Regions from separate parts of the Homo sapiens genome. Here regions 1, 3, 4, 5 and 6 are each reported to be linked to region 2. The links are microRNA targets in miRTarBase. Many come from high-throughput screens and were not tested one by one. Region 2 holds a microRNA gene; each other region holds the end of a gene's coding sequence.
Evidence for each region. Region 2 holds the annotated microRNA hsa-miR-605-5p (UAAAUCCCAUGGUGCCUUCUCCU, at 1,658-1,680, opposite strand). A microRNA usually pairs through its seed, bases 2 to 8, with sites in the 3' UTR of a target mRNA and lowers its output. Matches are read on the target gene's strand: a 7mer-m8 pairs with bases 2 to 8, a 7mer-A1 pairs with bases 2 to 7 and ends in A, and an 8mer does both.

Region 1: miRTarBase lists AASDH as a target of hsa-miR-605-5p. The part of its 3' UTR that is shown has no 7-base or 8-base seed match.
Region 3: the mRNA of TIGAR is a reported target of hsa-miR-605-5p. Seed matches in the 3' UTR shown: 7mer-m8 at 1,401-1,407.
Region 4: the mRNA of FBXO21 is a reported target of hsa-miR-605-5p. Seed matches in the 3' UTR shown: 7mer-m8 at 1,194-1,200.
Region 5: miRTarBase lists SLC25A13 as a target of hsa-miR-605-5p. Seed matches in the 3' UTR shown: 7mer-m8 at 2,951-2,957.
Region 6: miRTarBase lists SLC38A9 as a target of hsa-miR-605-5p. Seed matches in the 3' UTR shown: 7mer-A1 at 1,041-1,047.

What each region holds. Positions count from the first base shown.
Region 1 is chr4:56,335,693-56,339,208 of GRCh38, reverse strand. AASDH (aminoadipate-semialdehyde dehydrogenase) reads left to right here. Exons shown (of 15, transcript NM_181806.4): 15 at 418-919. The coding sequence ends at 807. Among named protein-coding and RNA genes, the nearest start is that of AASDH, 50 kb to the left of the region's middle.
Region 2 is chr10:51,297,752-51,301,267 of GRCh38, reverse strand. MIR605 (microRNA 605) reads right to left here and starts at 1,695; the gene lies at 1,613-1,695. The region is part of intron 2 of PRKG1 (protein kinase cGMP-dependent 1); the gene reads right to left.
Region 3 is chr12:4,351,856-4,355,371 of GRCh38, reverse strand. TIGAR (TP53 induced glycolysis regulatory phosphatase) reads right to left here. Exons shown (of 6, transcript NM_020375.3): 6 at 1-3,112. The coding sequence ends at 2,681. Among named protein-coding and RNA genes, the nearest start is that of FGF23, 26 kb to the left of the region's middle.
Region 4 is chr12:117,143,246-117,146,245 of GRCh38, forward strand. It overlaps FBXO21 (F-box protein 21), which reads right to left. Exons shown (of 12, transcript NM_015002.3): 12 at 1-3,000. The coding sequence ends at 2,842. Among named protein-coding and RNA genes, the nearest start is that of TESC-AS1, 45 kb to the left of the region's middle. RefSeq lists enhancers at 1-746, 147-226.
Region 5 is chr7:96,117,990-96,121,459 of GRCh38, forward strand. SLC25A13 (solute carrier family 25 member 13) reads right to left here. Exons shown (of 18, transcript NM_014251.3): 18 at 2,231-3,388. The coding sequence ends at 3,202. Among named protein-coding and RNA genes, the nearest start is that of MIR591, 100 kb to the right of the region's middle.
Region 6 is chr5:55,623,705-55,627,220 of GRCh38, reverse strand. SLC38A9 (solute carrier family 38 member 9) reads left to right here. Exons shown (of 16, transcript NM_173514.4): 16 at 562-1,373. The coding sequence ends at 727. Among named protein-coding and RNA genes, the nearest start is that of SLC38A9, 87 kb to the left of the region's middle. RefSeq lists an enhancer at 1,065-1,879.

The DNA of each region.
Region 1 (3,516 bases), not on the chromosome of region 2:
GCACTCCAGCCTGGGCGACAGAGCAAGACTCCATCTCAAAAAAAAATAATAATAATAAATAAAAATTAAAAAAAGATAATATTGAAAACTCAATGTAGTTTTACCTTTGAACTCAGTGTCTCTGAATAATACTAACTCTTGAATGGAGTTCAAAATTAATTTTACTTATTATGCACGGCAGTGAATCACATAGTAACAACACTCCAGTATATTTTGTCTTAGATTTTACATTTTACCACTGGGACAGAGGTCTAGTATGATAGTGCTACTTTTCAGAAAAAGCCATTTTGTCTGTGTATAGTTACCATTCAAATAGCCTATATCTCTTAGATTTGCATTAAGAACCTCATAGAGCTTTAAGGGAGAATTGGAGCAATTAGATGAATGAATTATATTTATTTTTATTACTTGTTATAGGTTTGGCAGTTCTCTACCAGTGGACCAATCTTTTCATCCCCGTGTACCTCACCATCAGAGCAAAAAATATTTTTTGGTTCCCATGATTGCTTTATCTACTGTTGTAACATGAAAGGTCACCTGCAGTGGAAATTTGAAACTACTTCAAGGGTCTATGCAACACCGTTTGCTTTCCATAACTACAATGGCAGCAATGAAATGTTGCTGGCAGCAGCATCTACTGATGGGAAAGTGTGGATCTTGGAATCTCAGAGTGGACAATTGCAAAGTGTTTATGAACTTCCTGGAGAAGTCTTCTCTTCTCCTGTGGTCCTGGAATCAATGCTCATTATTGGGTGTAGAGATAATTATGTTTATTGTCTGGATTTATTGGGTGGCAATCAAAAATAATCAAATACAGTCCTTATTTGTATAACAAATGTGAGATATTTGAAAATATTTTACCATTATACATCATGTGGACTTATTTTATATTAAAGAAGATTATATTTTGGCTAAGAAACGGAAACTTGTCTACACTTGATTAGAGAACAACTATATTTTACTTCCCATAGGAACGACAGAAGCTTTTACAAGGAGTTAGAGAACAAAACACATCAATATAATTAGTAGCACTTTTGTTTAATTAGGTGTGATGGTTAACTTTATTTATATGTCAGCTTGACTGGCTAAGGGATGCTCAGATGATTGATAGCTGGTAAAACATTATTTCTGGGTTTGTCTGTGAGGCTGTTTCTGGAAAAGATGATTAGCATTTGAATTTGAATCAGTAGACTGAGTAAAGAAGGTCCTCCCTCACCAGTGTGCCAATGTGGGTGGCATCGTTCAATCTGATGAGGGCCTGAATAGAATGAAAAGGTAGAGGAGGGGCAAATGCTGTCTTCTTGCTGAGATGTATCCATCTGCTCCTGCCCTTGGACATCAGGGCTCCTGGTTCTGAAGCCTTTAGACCACTCTCCTGGGTCTCCAGCGTGCAAATGGCAGATGGTGGTACTTCTCAGCCTCCATCATAATCACTTAAGCCAATTTTCATAATACATCATCTCTCCTAATCGCTAGGTTTCTATGGAGAACCCTAATACATTAGGCTAATTTTATGTTTTTTTCTTTAAAAAAGCAAGATCCCAGCTGGGGGGCCGGGGGGAGAAACAGAATATACTTACTTGGTGGGTTAAAAACAGTCTTTATTACATGAATTTGTCATTCATGGCAAAAGGTTTTCTAAGGCAGGATCTAGTTATTGAATTATGTTCCTTAGTTATTTTTAAATGAAGTACTAATGTAGAATAAAATAAACACACATATATCACACCCCCCACATAGTACAATTTCATGGTTATACATGGTGATTTCAGGCATTCATTGTTCCTAGCAATGCCCTTTCCTTAAAATTTTGATCTTTTGCGGGCAGCCAAGATGGCCGAATAGGAACAGCTCCGGTCTACAGCTCCCAGCGTGAGTGACGCAGAAGACAGGTGATTTCTGCATTTCCATCTGAGGTACCGGGTTCATCTCACTAGGGAGTGCCAGAGAGTGGGCGCAGGACAGTGGGTGCAGCACACTGCGTGAGCCGAAGAGGGTGAGGCATTGCCTCACTCGGGAAGCGCAAGGGTTCAGGGAGTTCCCTTTCCTAGTCAAAGAAAGGGGTGACAGACGGCACCTGGAAAATCGGGTCACTTCCACACTAATACTGCGCTTTTGCAACGGGCTTAAAAAAAACGGCGCACCAGGAGATTATATCCCACACCTGCCTCGGAGGGTACTACGCCCACGGAGTCTCGCTGATTGCTAGCACAGCAGTTTGAAATCAAACTGCAAGGCGGCAGTGAGGCTGGGGGAGGGGCACCTGCCATTGCCCAGGCTTGCTTAGGTAAACAAAGCAGCCGGGAAGCTTGAACTGGGTGGAGCCCACCACAGCTCAAGGAGGCCTGCCTGCCTGCCTCTGTAGGCGCCACCTCTGGGGGCAGGGCACAGACAAACAAAAAGACAGCAGTAACCTCTGCAGACTTAAATGTCCCTGACAGCTTGGAAGAGAGCAGTGGTTCTCCCAGCATGCAGCTAGAGATGATCTGAGAACAGGCAGACTGCCTCAAGTGGGTCCCTGATCCCTGACCCCCGAGCAGCCTAACTGGGAGGCACCCCCCATTAGGGGCAGACTGACACCTCACACGGCCAGGTACTCCTCTGAGACAAAACTTCCAGAGGAACGATCAGACAGCAGCATTCGTGGTTCACGAAAATCCGCTGTTCTGCAGCCACTGCTGCTGATACCCAGACAAACGGTCTGGAGTGGACCTCTAGCAAACTCCAACAGACCTGCAGCTGAGGGCCCTATCTGTTAGAAGGAAAACTAACAAACAGAAAGGACATCCACACCAAAAACTCATCTGTACATCACCATCATCAAAGACCAAAAGTAGATAAAACCACAAAGATGGGGAAAAAACAGAGCAGAAAAACTGGAAACTCTAAAAAGCAGAGCGCCTCTCCTCCTCCAAAGGAACACAGTTCCTCACCAGCAACAGAACAAAGCTGGACGGAGAATGACTTTGACGAGTTGAGAGAAGGCTTCAGACGATCAAACTACTCCGAGCTACAGGAGGAAATTCAAACCAAAGGCAAAGAAGTTAAAAACTTTGAAAAAAATTTAGACAAATGTATAACTAGAATAACCAATACAGAGAAGTGCTTAAAGGAGCTGATGGAGCTGAAAGCCAAGGCTGGAGAACTACGTGAAGAATGCAGAAGCCTCAGGAGCCGATGCAATCAAATGGAAGAAAGGGTATCAGCCATGGAAGATGAAATGAATGAAATGAAGCGAGAAGGGAAGTTTAGAGAAAACAGAATGAAATGAACAAAGCCTCCAAGAAATATGGGACTATGTGAAAAGACAAAATCTACGTCTGATTGGTGTACCTGAAAGTGACAGGGAGAATGGAACCAAGTTGGAAAACACTCTGCAGGATATTATCCAGGAGAACTTCCCCAATCTAGCAAGGTAGGCCAACATTCAGATTCAGGAAATACAGAGAACACCACAAAGATACTCCTCGAGAGGAACAACTCCAAGACACATAATTGTCAGATTCACCAAAGTTG
Region 2 (3,516 bases):
AATACCCTTCAGCCAATATTAAGGAAGGGTCAGTAAAATGAACTCAGCATGGGGCTTAAGCAGAGCACAATGATTTCTTTGACTTAGTGAAGGAAATGAATGAGGATGATTTTGGACGGCCAGTTTCTTTCACTAATCTGTTGCTGGACTCTATCAGACATGAATGTTTCTCCCTGTCAGATTTCCTAATATTTCTCCATTGTGCTGTCACCGACATGAGAGTTAACTGGCATGAGAAGAGCTCATCTCACTCAAAAAAAAAGTCAACATTCCACAGAAAGTTATGGGACCTTCAGTTAGTATTAAGAGGAAAGTGAAATTAGAAGCTTAGCACTCACAAGATTTATACAGGAAAAGAAAGGCAGACACACTATTTTCAGGCTGCTGCTAATTAAGTCTTATTTGGATTGGAGCCTTCTGAAAGGAATCAACACATCAGGAATGGGTAAGCTAACAGGGAGGAGACAGCTGCTGAATATAATTCTGGAGAGAGCAGCCCTGCTGCTTAGATCTCAGATAACACAGAGGTTCAGTGTGTAATTGACTATGGAACAAGAAGAACATTGTTTTGTAAAAGAAGGTACCATTGCTGGGGTCCACAGAAACAGTTATGGTTCTTACCTCTGAAGGAGAACTGTGTTTAACTGTGGCTTTTAGATTTAACTTACTAAATTTGTATTTGCTGCAAAAGTAAACCACACTCAAGAGTAAAGCAAAATTCATCAGCAAGGCTATAATTTTGCAGAGAGAAATAAGAAGGGTGTATAATATTTAAATCGGAACTCAGCATCCCAGCAAAGAGCTTCTTAATCAAAACAAAAGAGAAAAAATCATTAAATACAGTAACCCACTGAGATTCACATGAAGGTATGTCCCACAACTTTCATAAATCCCGAATTTATGATACCACTATAATATACTATTACTCCACAAGAAGTAGATGTGAATAACACCCAAGGATTACTGTGTATGATACAGAAAACCAAAGAGAAGAAAAGCTGCATGGAGAGCAGCTGCTCTGACTGTGTGTGCAGTGCCTCATTCACCAACACACAATTCAAATTCAAGCCTCAGCAAAATAACTTGTCGTAAGCCATGATCCTCTATAAGGTCATCTTCAAATAGACGAAATAGTGACATTTAATTCATAAAGACAAGGTTCTACTCTCTTGCTGAGCAAGTAATCCAATCAACTGTGGTTTAGTTTCATCAACTTTGGAGAAAAGGCAATTTTCTTTCAAGATTTGACACCCTTCATACCCTCTGCCTATAATTCCAGATGGTAGGTGTAGGTGGTAGAAATGTTAGGTTGAGCAGAATGATAGTACCTAAAGAAGAATGAATAGTACCAGGAAATGCATGACTCATGGCATTCTAATTTTCTTGAAGTTCTTTTGTACATTTGCATCAAGATTTTCCACAAAATTCAATCCTGACTTTAATTGTAAATTAAAGAGTCCTTTATTGAATTTCTATTATTGCAGAGCAGTTACGCCACATGAGGTATAATAGAAGCTTATAATGTCATTGAGAGGCCAGGAAAAAACACATGTGCAGAGAGCAATATACCTGTGGCTGTCAGCCTGTAACATAGGTAACCTGTATCTGCAGTCCTAACTTGATTCTAAATCTCATAGTGCCTTCTCTGTTTTTCCCAAGGAGAAGGCACCATGGGATTTAGAACCAAGCTAGGGCTAGAGACATATGTTACAGGCTGTGAAAGTTCTACCAAAGTTCCTACTTTAAAGAATGAGCAAAAAGAGGCGGGGCATGGTGGCTCACACCTGCAATCTCAGCACTCTGGGAGGCCGAGGTGGGTGGATCACCTGAGATCAGGAGTTCAAGACCAGCCTGGCCAACATGGTGAAACCCCATCTCTACTAAAATTACAAAACTTAGCCAGGCATGGTGGAGGATGCCTGTAATCCTACCTATTCAGGAGGCTGAGGAAGGAGAATTGCTTGAACCCAGGAGGCGGAGGTTGCAGTGAGCCGAGATCGTACCACTGCACTCTAGCCTGGGTAACACAGTGAGACTCCATCTCAAAAAACATATAAAAATAAATACAGATAAAAAGAATGGGCAAAAAGAGATACTGGCTAAAGTCTTAAGCAATAAATTCATCAAAGGCAAAAAGACAGGTAAGTGTGTGTGGCTTTAAGGAACCATTAACTGAACCATTTTATTGGAGCAAAGGGCTCATTTAAAGGCATGAGTGAAAATGACAGATGGAGTAATGGTCATATTCCTTTCATTATTACACTTTAGACAACAAACCTTTGTGCTCCATTGCACTTAAATACCAGGAAAACACTTACCAAAGAACAATATTAACACATTTATGCAACCATATGATCTTTGCATACAGATCACAGCAATCAAGCTTCCAACCTTTTGTTGCATGCCTACTATGTGCCAGGAATTGTCCTAGCACTTCCCTTCCAATTCCCTATCCTATTTAATCGCTTCACATTCTACCACTCACACAAATTGTAGATTTATTTTACTCTCAGCCCACATAAAATACTCCAACCTAACAATTTTTAATTCTATCGGCATGATATTCTTTCATCCATCTAATGTTTCTACCTTAGATCAGAACCATTTCATATTTCAATTCCTACATTACCCCCTAGACTCCAGGCTTATAGTTTTATAAAATAAGATTGTAAAATAAAAACCCATCTTCTCCCTTCCTCCAGAAAAGGAGAGAAGTAAGTGTGTAATAGCTAACATTTATAATGATTTTACTATGCTGAGTGCTTTCTACATAAAGCTGTTTCATTTAATGGCTCAGCAACACTGTTGAAAAAGGAAGAACCTGGAGTATGGAAAGACTGAACAACTCCCACCAGGTTCATGTAATCAGTAATTGGTGGAGCTGGAATTTTTAATCAGGTCCAACTCAGAACCTAAATCTTTTAAGATCACAAGCTTAGTCATAATATTCAATTCAGTGCCTTTTCTTTGCCTATAAAATAAACCACATTTTTTGAAGTAGTGGCAATGTAACTCTTGAATTAGATTGTGTGGGTTCAGATTTCAAATGTATCATTTGCCACCTGTGCAAATTTGGACATCATAATTAATATCCCTAATCATGAATTTATCATCTATAAAATGGATAATATTAGTTTCTTTACACACCATTGTTATAAGGTTAGGAGATAATTCATGTAAAATGTATACAGGGCCTAATATAGTAAGTGCTTAACAAGAACTGATGAAGGAATAATGGTTAGGTACATAAATGAATGAGTGAATGAATTTCCTTTACATACATCTCTTTATATAAATATATCACTTATAGTAACAAGTGTAGGTAAGGACACCTACTCTATCCCTCATTGTTAGGGTTAAGAACTGCTTGCATTATTTTTTAGGAAAAGCCATTAAATGCCTTATACTAAAGAGAAAATAATGGGAGGCATTATCGTAATCATTATCATCATGATTTCATCAAAACTGATGAAAACCTATTACATGTAAGATATCAAGGTTAAAAAAGAGACATAT
Region 3 (3,516 bases), not on the chromosome of region 2:
ATAACTAAAAGAGTCCACAGACTCTAGCAAATGAGGGGGTGTGAGGCCTGAGAGCACACACCACAAACCAATTGGGAAAGAACAGCCTTTACAATGGTGTTGGGATAACTGTTTCAACCACATGAAAAAAAAAATTAAATTCTTACCTTATACTATAAAAAGCAAATTTCAATTTCAAGATTTGACATTCAGAAGTTCTCAAAAACTGTAAGAAGACATTACTGTATGACCTCATGGTAGAGAAGTCTTCTTAAAGATACACACCAAAAAAACCCCATAAAGGATAAGGTATATTGGTTTGTCTTAAAAATTAAGAACACATATTAAAAAAATGCATCATAGGCCAGGCACGGTGGCTTATGCCTGCAATCCCAGCACTTTGGAAGGCCAAGGCAGGTGGATCACCTGAGGTCAGAAGTTCAAGACCAGCCTGGCCAACATGGCGAAACCCCGTCTCTACTAAAAAAAAAAAAAAGGCCAGGCGTGGTGGTGCATGCCTGTAGTCCCAGCTACTCAGGAGGCTGAGGCACAAGAATTGCTTGAACCCGAGAGGTGGAGGTTGCAGTGAGCCAAGATCACGCCATTGCACCCCAGCCTGGGCAACAGAGAGAGACTCTGTCTCCAAAAAAAAAAAAAAAGAAAAAAAGCAAAGAAAATAAAAACTGAATATACCTAAATGCCCACTAATAAACAAAAATGTGCTATATTTAATAGAATAGAGTGGTTATAATTAACTAGATCTATATATATCAACACAGAGATGCCTCCAAGACATAAGTAAAAATAAAGAACACAGATGGCTTGATATTTATTTTTAAAGCACCAAAACAGTACCATCTCCTTCCAGACACTAGGTGAAAATATAAGGAACAGATGAACATTGCAAGCAGATGAACAGGTGAACATATACACAGACTCACTGCAGTGGCTGCCTCTGGAGGGAACAGGACTGTGAGAGCTGGTTAAAGAGAACTCTACTTTTATCTTTATGTTTTGTTTCTTTAAAAAAAAAAGTGGAAAGATGACTTCAGTATGGTGGGAATGGAGATAATTATTGTCTGTCCTTTTTGCTTATTTTTCAAATTTTTATTTACAGTATACTTCCTCTGATGCTCAAACACGTGCCCTGTTTCAATACTGGTAGAAAACTGGTAGTGCTAGACACACTAAGAACAATATAATACTGAATTTTACATATGATTTAAAATGATGTCAAAGTAAATTTTGACTATATGTGACTATAGCCTTAACTGACAACTTTAGTATTAACCCTCTTTAAAGTTGAGACTCACAGCATTTAGCAACATGGTGACTTAAAAGCGAACTACATGTAGAACAGTTTCTTCATTTAGATAAAGATTTCTGAAAGACCAATCTTGTGTATAAAATTAAGTTAATCAAAATCCCTTTTCTCCAGTGCCATCTGGTGGAAAGAAGAGGCAACCTCACCTGTACCTGCCACAAAATAACCACAGCTGTGGTTATCAGAGCAACATTCTCTCCCCCCCAACCACCCCGCCTTCCCTGCCCGCAGAGCACCCTCTGTCATCCCCTCTGTCACCTAGGCTGGAGTGAAGTGGTGCGATCTCGGCTCACTGCAACCTCCACCTCCCGGGTTCAAGCGATTCTCCTGCCTCAACCTCCCAAGTAGCTGGGATTACAGGCGCCTGCTACCACGCCTGGCTTTTTTGTATTTGTAGTAGAGACAGGGTTTCACCATTGTTGGCCAGGCTGGTCTAGAATTCCTGACCTTGTGATCCGCCCGCCTCAGCCTCCCAAAGTGCTGGGATTACAGGTGTGAGCCACTGGGCCCGGCCCAGAGCACCATTCTTTACAAAGAAGGCCCCTCTTTTATTCTGATTACTGTGTGGTGTTCTGTTAACTGTTTACTTTCTTTAGAGCCTTCCTCAAACTGGAAATTCTTCAGCCTACAGGTTAGATAAGAAGCAAGTGGATATTCTTCATTTTTTTGGCTTTCCTGGTTTCCATTGACTTGACTTTGGCAAGGCATTATTTAGAAAAGGCTGTTCTTCTATCTTCTGCTCCAAGATTCTTTCTTTACTGTATTTAAATCAAATGTTTTAACTTCTTCCCCCAGACCATTCTGCAATCATAATCTGTATTCATCCACATTTCAAGCCCTCTAGAATAAAAAATTCCAATAGTTGATTTATACGTAAAACATGTTAGTGTTATTTTGCTTTACATAAACTTATAAGGATTTTTTATTTAAAGGATTTAAAAATATAACACAGTCAATATAAACATGTACTGGGAATTATAAACCATTCTTTCTTCTAAGCACTGGATGAGATACTAAAAACATACAGTATCTTACCAATAGCCATTAAAATAGGCTAAAATGAAAAAGAAACCGTTGTAACAAGGTTACTAATCCCCCAACTTTCAATGCTGAGTTCCTTCATCATCCATGTGCAATCCAGAGATGACATCTAGCAGGGTGGTAAAATTATTCTGGAAAATGCCAACTGTACTTGGACAAAATAAGTTAATTCTATATGGTTGTCCATTAAAGTTTTATGTGGCTATGGTTCCACTGGAGCTAAAAATTGGCTTTTAACTGTTTCCAAATCAGAACTAGCAGAGGAGAGAAGTAAATAAAGCCAATGGCACTCCCTTCAGAGGCTCAAAATGGTTAGATTTTGATGCAGATTTAACCTTAGCGAGTTTCAGTCAGTCCATTTAGATGATCCTGTAGGTTCATACAAATACACTGAACCGTTGGTTTAACTTCTCTTCCTTCCTCAAAGTTTATGATAAAGAGACTCATCCCTGTATTGGGAGTGACTGACATAAGTTCAGATCTGCTCAGAGTGGCTGGTAAGGAACACTTAAGGTCAGTCAGAAAATAATCAAACAGACTTCTCATGTAAGCACCGTGACTCACAACTAAGACACTGGCTGCTAATCCTGGAATACCGCTGTCTGAATTAACTTTAGAGCTGTGATTTTTTCCTAAAGGAAATATCTCTGCCAAAGAAGTTTCCAGACAGTTGCTTGGAGATCCTTGGGAAAACTGTTCTTTTTGATCCGCTTCTTTCAGGATTAGTTGACAAAGAAATTCAAAAAAGTCTATTCCACGCATTTTCACCTACAAGAAAAGAAATAAAAGTCAAAATAAAGTGACATTAATGACTTCCTTAAAACGTTAACATAGAACATAACTGACTGGATTTTTTTCTAATATTGAATGCCAAGTACTACACAAGCAGAAGAATATCAATCTACATTTCTATTCGTTCAATCAGTAGTTTCATGGACATATATAAGTATCCACCACATTTCTGGAATTACAAAAGCACCATGGAGACCAAGATGAAGAAGATCCAATTCCCAATTCCTGAGTTCAAAGCACTCACGGTCTAGTTAGGGAAATCTACAAGCCAACAGAAACTCATAAAACAGTGCTAACCAGGAAGCTGTCTCTGGCACTTCAGTGCCACTGGAACAACAGCAGCAACAAATCCTTCCCTTACTAAAGTAATGGAAAGTATT
Region 4 (3,000 bases), not on the chromosome of region 2:
ATCAAGATGACACACCCGCTGCACACTTCTCTTAGAAAGTCACGACGCACAGTACTGTGCGTCACAGGTATTGAGAAACACCACCATAGAGTCAATTGACTTTGTTTAACCTATAACCTTTTTTCCTCCCACATAGTAGGTAGTAACATCACACGGAAACAGTGCTCTGAAGACATTCTGGACACATCGTATACAGCACAGCCATTCAAATCAACGGCAACAGAACGCACGAAGAACCTGGTTTTCTTTCAAAGCATGAGCAGTTCTCATTTTACAACATGTGTTTTAACATAATTCAGAAAGTGCAATCTTTGCATGACAACCAGATAATTCTCAAAGGTTACTAGTGAGCTGATAAAATTAACGTTTGGCAAGGAGGTCATGGTTTACAGGTAGGCTGTCCGCTCACCAATGCTCAGAAAAATTCAGCAGAACATACTTTTCATATTTAGATCCGAAGAGAGGTGAGAGACATTCTACTCAAGTCATGGCTGGGCTTTCTGTCCTCAAACGAAATTGGGCAGGCCATTTGCGTGGTTTCTCTGGATAAGTTCCATTTATTAATCATTGTACAAAAAAATCTTGGCATTCATTTGAAGAGAAAAGAAGTTGCTATATCCAAATATTTAACATTTTAACATTGTGAAAGTTCAACGTTTATAACAGGGCTTTTTAAAATGGAGAAAAGTTTTGGAAAATTTTTAAAAAGAAACTTATGATTTATTAGAGTACAGGATCCAAAACACGTTTTTAGAAAAATATAAAGTGCCCAAATACCAACTTACACAGGTGATACAGGCTTCCTGGAGCCCCATGAAGCATTCATGAAGAAAGACATTTAAAAACAGTCTAGATACATATGTACAGCTGGGTCAGTAAAGGTAAAACCATCTTTCTTGACTTTGATGTGTCTAAGAAAAAAGGAAATCAATCAAACCAGAAAACCAACAATTGCAACTCTCAGCATGCTCAGGTTCTTATTAATGCATCTCATTCATATTAATTAATTCCGTATTATCAAACTTTCCCCTTTAAATGAAAGTAGTGTACAATCCTCCCAACCTTGGCGGGCCAGGTGCTGTGAGTGGTTACGTTTCCAGATGCAGGTTCAAATCCTTTGACTTTGGATTTGACTGATGAGGAACATGGACAGTGGATTAAATAGCTCATTCAGGCTGGAGGAGCCAGGGGCCAAATCCCCATCTCTTTCTAGTAACTGCTTAAAGCCTTCCCTTGCTATGAAGTGGTCTCAGGTGGCTTTCCAAACCTTGGTCACCCCAGGGTTTCCAAAGGGTAAACAAGCAGCAGGCATTCAACATGGGTGAGAATACTGCATGCAGATGGACAGACAGGTGCAGAGACAGGCCCCTAACGCCCCATTCACTAGAGCAACTGCATTATTTTAAATGTTGAGAGCAAAGTAACTAGGTCCTAACTTCGGAAGTTAGCTTCTATCGATTAATGACAAGATTAGCTCGCTTGAGAACTGGCAGGCCGAGAGTTGGTGGAGCTCCAGAGCTGCACAAAGGCGTGCAGTTACTCTGGGCTCAGTTACTGAGAACTTCGGAAAGGAGCCAGTGCCGTCCGAACACACGGTCAGGCTTTCCCAGAAGACGCCACAACAGGCTTCGTCCTGCTGCCGTCAGGACCCTGGCGGCTTGGAAAAGCAGATTCCAACACGCACATCTCCTTTCACACAAGTCCAACACTCTTCAAATGAAAGACATTCTCTCTCTTTCTAACCTGCCACATTCAAACAGGCCTTGAAGTGACTCTAAGGAATAACAAGAGGTGTGAAACCACTTTTTTTCCCTTCAAAACCTTTTTTTTTTTTTTTAAGGTTCATTAATTTTTTTTTTTCCTGATTACAAAAGCAAAACCTCATTTTTTGGTCTTTGAAGACCATGGAGTATGACTTCTAAGAGCAAACATTAACATCAGATTTGTATGTCTCACTACAAAAAGAACCCATCACTGATGTAAGACCTACTCATGATACTGAAGTAGATTTTTTAAATTAAAAAATAAAAGTAGTCATTTAAAATGGAGGAATTGTAGATGAGTATGGAAAAATCCATTCACAAAGTTCACTATTTGCATTTTCTAAAAGAATTTTATGTAATAAAATAGAAAACTAATGATTTATAGAGATGTGCATAAACTCAAGAGAGGAATATGGAAGGGAAAACTGTGTTATATTCCCATTTAAATTTAAAAAAAAAAGATAAAACACTTGAAATCTGTGTTTCACATATTAGAAAAAAATAAATTCAAATGATTCTAATTACCATTAGCTTGTTAATGTCTCCATCTCTAAGATGCTGCCAAGATAGCACACAACTTTACCTCTGAATATGCAACTAACTTCAGGGTAAAAAGACACACAGTCCTCACTCGGGACCGAACACGTTCCACAGAGAAATCAGAAGGAAATTATTGCAAATGCATAACCCCATCTGTCCAGCCAAGGAAATGTTCTGAGACAAATGCAGACAGACAGGGGAATGGAGTGAATACAAAGAATGATTACAGGAGCGTCGACTGTGAGACCTCATGAAGACAGAATGTCACAAACTGTCACCACAGGACAAGCATACAAGCCATGCCACTGACACAGTGCCTTTCAGATTAATTCACTAGTGTAGGCGGAGAGCAACATTGTCTTTGCAGCTGGGGAAGAGCACACGGTATTTAAACTTAGTAGGAGGCAACCAGCACTACTGGTGGAGTGGCTTTCCTGGTGCAGCAGGTCCCGAGGGCTCCGTGGAGACGTCTTCTTCCGGAGTCCCGTTCTCTTGGAAGATAGCAGCAGCAGCAAAGGTGCAATGTCCTCTCTAGACTTTACTCATCTATGTTCTCTTTCTTTGCACTGTAAATATTCTGCACCGTTTCATAGACAAACTCCAGATCTTCTGGATACCGGATCTCCAGCTCTGCGTTTGGGATGTAGTGAGTGCCAGTAAACTCTGAGAAATAGCGTCCCACGTCAGGGTGTGAGAT
Region 5 (3,470 bases), not on the chromosome of region 2:
GGCAAGGATACAAATTCATCCCCACAAGTATGCCTTCTGCGGTAAAAGGCACATGATGACTTTTAGGGACAGTTTATTTGGAAGGTTGATAAATGGGGCCATAAGACAGGACTCATCAAATTTCTTTTTTGAGATCTCCCTCTACCTGAAGCATTCCAGCATGACTTGCATTCTGAATACCTAGTTGGAGGAGGTTACAAACAGTTTCAAGCGCCATTTGTTCCCGTTTTGATTCCCCACTCGCTGGGTTATGTGCTGTTAGACATTTCCAGAAGACTGTCAAAATGTAAGCATCCTGAGGTTTACATAGGCCACGCCATTAAATAACATATAAGCACAACATTTTAAACATTGTTTTCCAGCAATGGTAAATATTTTAGCTAAGTAGAAACTAAAGCTTGAAATGCAATAAGCACTTAAATGACTCCTTTCTGTGCCAGAATTCTTATTTTCCTCTGTGCGACCCTGGCTTCTGGGATTAAGGCAACCCCAGGGAGCTCAGCAAATGGTTGTGGGTTACGAGGTGTAGCAGGAGCTTGGCGACAGCATGCCACCCAGCCTCAAGAAACCCAGCCATGACTGGAACCCAAGAATCAGTGTGTTCACTTTGTGGTCAGCTTCACATTTTTCCCCTCCTTGAAAAAAAAAAAAAGCTGCTATGAAAATCAGACCTCTCTCCCAACCCCCAAGGAATCACGTGGTGGACCAGGAGCAGAGTGGAGACTCGGGGCAGGCAGAGCAGAGGAGGCTGGCCCCCTCACGTAGGCAGGCAAGCAGGCAGGCATGTGGGAGTTACCAGCTTCAGTTCCTCAGCCCTACAGAGGGAAACGACCCACGGCACCAACAACAGCCACACCACTGACGACGACAACGGATTGTGCTGTCACCAGAAAGAAGGGAAACCCAGAGCGAATTTTACAGTGGTTTTCACCACACGGTGATTGCAGTCCTGTTCAGGGCATGTCACAGTAACACCACCCACTGAGCAGAACCCAGAGGGAAATTAGGCCTCCTTCAAAGTCTCCCATTACTGCCTATCCCTGAACAGAATAAGGCAAGGATTTTAAGGACACACAGACATGTGGCCCTACCTCCATTGGCTTCCTGGGGCCCCTGGCTTCTTATTCACTAAAGAGAATTGTTCTCAGTGACTGACAAGGCTAAATGAAGACAGGGTGCTCTCTCATTAAATGCAACTGCTCTTTAAGAGGCAGGCAGGGCCATGGACAAGTTATGAGATTTTTGGTCAGTGTTTTTACCAAGAAAACTTGATCTGCCATAAAATCTCAAACAAGTGAAGAAAAGGAATGCAGAGATGCAGGGCCTTTTCTCCACATTCAAAAGACCAAAGTTGGCATGTTTTGTTCTAACACCAACCACATTTCTAACACATATTTGGAGTTCTGTGACTAGTCTCTGAGATTATAATACAGATATTTATCACTTATCACACTGAATTTGGGGAGGGGATTCCCCTTTGGTTTTGTCAAATAATCACAGAAGGAGCCATGTATGTTATCTGTCCTGTTTCTAGTGAAGAAGACAAAGCTCTTCACTCCCCTCCTGACCCTCCCCCTCTAAAAAATCAGCCATTTATGGCGGGTATTGACTCTTGCCAATTTTAAACTGTAACTTCAAATGTCAGCCTGTTGACTTACAGAAACAGACTGACAAATGGCTGTCTGCTATGGAGAAAAACTTTGGAAACTCAAAATGTTCATACAGACTGCCAACAGATTAATTAGTAGCCTCTTTGGAAGCATGATCACGGTCTAAGAATAGCCTTAAATCCTGTTCAAGACTAGCTTCTTTCCCCAAATCATTATAGTGCTAGCCAAATAATAGCAAATGTTAGATACAGTGGTATATGGTTTTGGTGTGTGCAAGAGTCAGACTGGATTAGAAAATACGACTGCCATTTCATACCAGTTTTCATGGCTAAGTTCTACTAAAACTATGTGACCTTCATCATCACAATAAACTGCCGAAAGTGCTGGAATGACTAGAACTAAGGTGTCAGTTTGCTAGTTCTTTGCTTATCTATGGTTAAATACAGTTTCTTGTACTCACTTTGAACCATGAAAATGAGGGAACACATTACCTTGAAAGATACTGAGGATATATCCATGCCAATATGAATAAAATTCCCCTCAAAACAAAACATGTAGGCCAATAATGACAATTACTGTATCCACTCACCATGCAACATGCACAAGACCAAACAACTCAATCACTTTACAAATAGTTTATTTCCACCTTCACAAATTCATGCGCCTCTGACCATTATGCAAGGCAACATGAATTAAATACTTATGTCAGAACATATTTGTCTTACATTATTCAAGATAAAGTGGATTTTAAAAGCAAGTGGGTACCAATGATGGGGAGATGAGGAGAATAGGGCAGGCAGCAACAGGGCAACATGCATTTTTCAAGAGTGTTTATTAAAATAGGCAGTAATCAGTACATGTACATCATATGAGCAGTTTTTCAAAATTAGCACTTCCAGGAGAGGGGCTACATCTCAGTTTTTTCTGTCTGTACAGTAAAATGCCAAAAGTACTTCCCTAAAGTACAAAGGCATTTCCCTAGTAGTCTTGGTACCAGTAACAATATGATTACTAAACATCTCCAATGTGGTTTTCATTACAAAGAAACATGTTTCACATAAAAGCTTCATAATATAATCCAGAGACAGAATTTGTGCATGCTTACAATTTGAAGCCAGGCTGAATATATTTGATATATATTTTTTCATTTCTCCCAGTGTTTTTTATTTTTATAAATATGCACCTAGTTTCCTACCAGTTTAAAACACACACGAAACACTGCTCTGAGCACCATGATTGCCTTACAGTAGCCTCTTTGGGACTACAATCCTAGTTCAAGGAGGGGAGTACTAATTTCTATTCTGACTTGCTCCTTTCCCCAAATCATGTTAGTGTTGACCAAATCCCATCAATTTTCAGATGCAAACAAAGGTTTCTGGGCAGAGGGCCAAATAATAATTATGAATAATTTCACAATGATCTGGTTAAGAAAACACCCAGAAAATGAATGATTTCACATGATAAAAAAGCCTGGACTTGAATTTAAACAAGAGATGGACGTAAAAGGGATGAAGCATTGCTTCATTCCCAGGAGGGATGTTCTTTACTGCAGTACCCACAAAAAGACAGCACTATCCCAGGGCTGATCTTCCTATGGGCCTCCACCAATAGCCTTTGAGGTAGATACTGATGGCTTGAAGAGAGGTAGGTAAAGTCCAAATTTGTTTTCAATCCCTGCAAATGTAGCAACTGCCAGTTTGTAGCCCCCAACGTGATCAGGATTCGGGGCAGGCAGGTTGATCCTGGATTTAGGAACTGGCTCTGATCCCATGGGTTTTCTAAAAGAAGAGAAAACAGAGTAAGAAGCTGTATTTTTTGTTTGTTTTAACTTGATAAAAATAACATTCAAAACCTGTTCAA
Region 6 (3,516 bases), not on the chromosome of region 2:
TTATTGAATATAAAGGGCTTACCAGTTCCTATTGAACTGTTCCTCAAGAAAACCCAAGTATAGAGAAAAGGAGAAGAAAGTGCATATTTCTCTGTCACAGTCTCATGTTTAAGTATTTTTGTTATTATCTTTCGTAATCATGCTGAATGCCATGGTAGCATTTATCTGTTCTTATACTTAAACCGGGATGCTAACGGTCCCTCAAAAACTGAGAATGAGTAATTAGTTTATAAAAGATCAAAGATAGGAGGCCTAGCTCCAGATGTTTCTGAGGAAGTAGCCACAATCACCAAATACAGAGGAACTACAGAGATTTGAGGGATGAATAAAAAGTCTTTGTTAAGCAGATGCTATAAAGATGAGCAGGAAATCATATTTTATATTAACTTAGCAAGTAAAGTAAGTTTTAAACCCAGATGTTTTATGTCAACAACAAATGAATCAAAAATAATTTTTGTTGAGCTATCAGACTGAGGAGGATTTAAATTGTACTATGTTTACCTTAATTGTAAAAAGCAAAGTGCAAGATGAATATTAACCCCAAAAGCTTTTATTTTGCAGATATTCAGGAGCAGCATGTGGACTGGCCTTTGTATTCATATACCCATCTCTCATCTATATAATTTCCCTCCACCAAGAAGAGCGTCTGACATGGCCTAAATTAATCTTCCACGTTTTCATCATCATTTTGGGCGTGGCTAACCTGATTGTTCAGTTTTTTATGTGAAATACCTCAACTGTTTTTTTCAAGAGCTCTCATGATATTTTGAGCCTTGACAACAGTTCTATATAAATTCACTTGTAAATGCTGCTGTTGTGTAATTCTAAATATTTTCTAAGATAATTTGAAAGCAAGGGAAATAGTGGCCCCTTAATGAGTATTTTTTTATTGGGGTGGGGAAAGGGGCAAAAAGAATGATCTTAGTGTCTTTACCTTTCTCATATTAACTCACCTCTTTATTCTGTGGTCTTTTCTGAATAGAAATGTATGCCCTAGGAAGAAATCATGCTGGGTTTTGCTTTTAGAGATAAAAGGTGGTGGATTTATTTTGCCTGCAGTAAAGATTCTCAGGGTGTCAGAGCAGCATATTGTCAAATCCTGCTTCTGTTTTATGTTTCAGTGTATTCACTTTCATTTTCTTACTTACTAGACCATTTCTGCAGTTTGCCCAAACCTCTACTGTTTGGGACAGTAAGCCAAATACCTCATTTTTAAAAAGAAGTTTTCATGGCATCAGTGTTAATAAAGTACATTTTTAACTGAGTCTTAATCTCTATTTGAAGAAAAAGTAGAGACAAAAGTAATGTCAATGTAATCCCCAGGATCATGAAATGTATACAAAATAAATAAAGTAGGAGAGTTTGTTGCTGTCTAACTCCTCTTTTATTTCTAATCCAGTACCAGTGACTTAGATCGAAATTACAGTTCCCCAAGCCAGACTTTGCATAAGAACAAGAATGATTGTCCCCATAGACCCAGGGGGTGCTTTTGCTTTTTGGATCCCTGAGATCCCAGCGTAGGCTGTCATGATGGACCCAGTGGGGAAAGCATGGCAGAGAGGAGCCTGAGAGGCCCATAGGGGAGACGGCGAACAGAGAAGGGGCCAGGGAGGAAGAGGCCTCAGCCCAGCATATTTTGTGTCCTCTGGGGGTGGACTGGTTTCTGCACCACAAAAAAGGATTGATTTTGTTTGAGGTATGACCTTCAGAAAGAGACCTCCATCTGCTTACTTCTGTAACTGGCAGTACTGTTACAGGAAAGGGGTCCTGATCCAGACCGTGAGAGAAGGTTCTTGGATCTTGCGCAAGAAAGAATTCCAGGCAGGTCCACAGAGTAAAGTGAAAGCAAGTTTATTAGGAAAGTAAAGGAATAAAAGAATGGCTACTCCATAGACAAAGCAGCCCCGAGGGCTGCTGGCTGCCCATTTTTATGGTTATTTCTTGGTGATATGCTAATCAAGGGGTGGATTATTCATGCCTGCCCCTTTCAGACCATATAGGCTAACGTCCTGACATTGCCATGGCATTTGTAAACTGTCATGGCGCTGGTGGGGGTGTAGCAGTGAGAAGACCAGAGGTCACTCTCATTGCCATCTTGGTTTTGGTGGGTTTTAGTCGGCTTCTTTACTGCAACCTGTTTTATCAGCAAGATCTTTATGACCTGAATCTTGTGCCGACCTCCTGTCTTATCCTGTGACCTAGAATGCCTTAACCATCTGAGAATGCAGCCTGGCAGGTCTCAGCCTCATTTTACCCAGCTGCTATTCAAGACAGGAGTTGCTCTGGTTCACATGCCTCTGACAGTACAGAGTTAAAACCCTGTGAGAAAAACTCCTTAAATCTGAGAAAAAGATTAAGGAATCTGGATCCTTGGAATCGACGCTCTTCCCTTATTTCTTCTGAACTAAAAGCTAAACTAGTATCCACATTCACGTTTTCCAAGTAATACAGCCTCTGTGTCCAGGTCAGGATACAACATGGTGATTTTTTTTTTCTGAAAAAATTAGATTTCTCTAATTTTAAGCTAAAGTTTAAAAATCTATTGTATGTTCACCTCTCAGATAGTGTATGGATTTGTGTTATTTCCTTCCTTTGAAAAAGAAAAATGGTTTTTGCAAACCTAGTAAGGAGCCCAGATTCAAGATCAGCCTTAATTTCTTTCAGCAAAGCTTTCTGTCCTATTCATAAAGCCATAGACCTATATTAATGATGAACTGTATTTCCTAAAGCTCGTTTGTTTTAATAAAAAGTCTCATTATGAAAATCTCAAGCCCACACAAAAGTAACATGGAGTAATACGGTGAACCTCACAATGCCTATCCCCTAGATTAATAATTATAAAACTTGGCTGTATTTGCTTCACCTATCTTTTTTTTTCTTTTCCACTGAAATATTGTCAATCTCAGATGTTATTTCATCACTACAAACCTTAATTTACAGCTATTAGTAATAGCCTTTTGAACATAGTTACATTGATGGAAATAGTCTCAAAAGTTTTTGTTCACATAAATTGCTGGTAGTAGGAGTTCGGTTAATTGGAAAATTCTGCAGTAGGTGTCAGATCACTGTGTTAATTTCTCTTAGAAAAGGAGTATAATGAATGGAGAAAGTGCTTCTCTGTGCTTGAGAGCCCCTGAATCTTTATGACTTCAGAATCTTATTCAGTTAAGAGACATAGGATTCAAAAGCCAGACAGCACTGGGAGCGATCTAGGCTTAATCCCAGTTTATCCCCAGTCACCTTCCTTCTCTGTAAAAACTTCAGAAACAGGGCTGGGCACTGTGGCTCATGCCTGTCATCCCAGTTCTTTGAGAGGTGGAGACAGAGTTTCATTGCCACTTTTCAATAATGTACTTGAATGTTTTAACACATGGAAAAAATGATTTAATATATTTTTGTCCATTTAATGAACTAAGTGAATATGACAATGAATGAGGTATTTACTAAACTAAAAGACAATGTGAATCTTTGCTATTGTTTCTTTAAAAGACTTGATGTGAGGCCGGGCATGGTGGC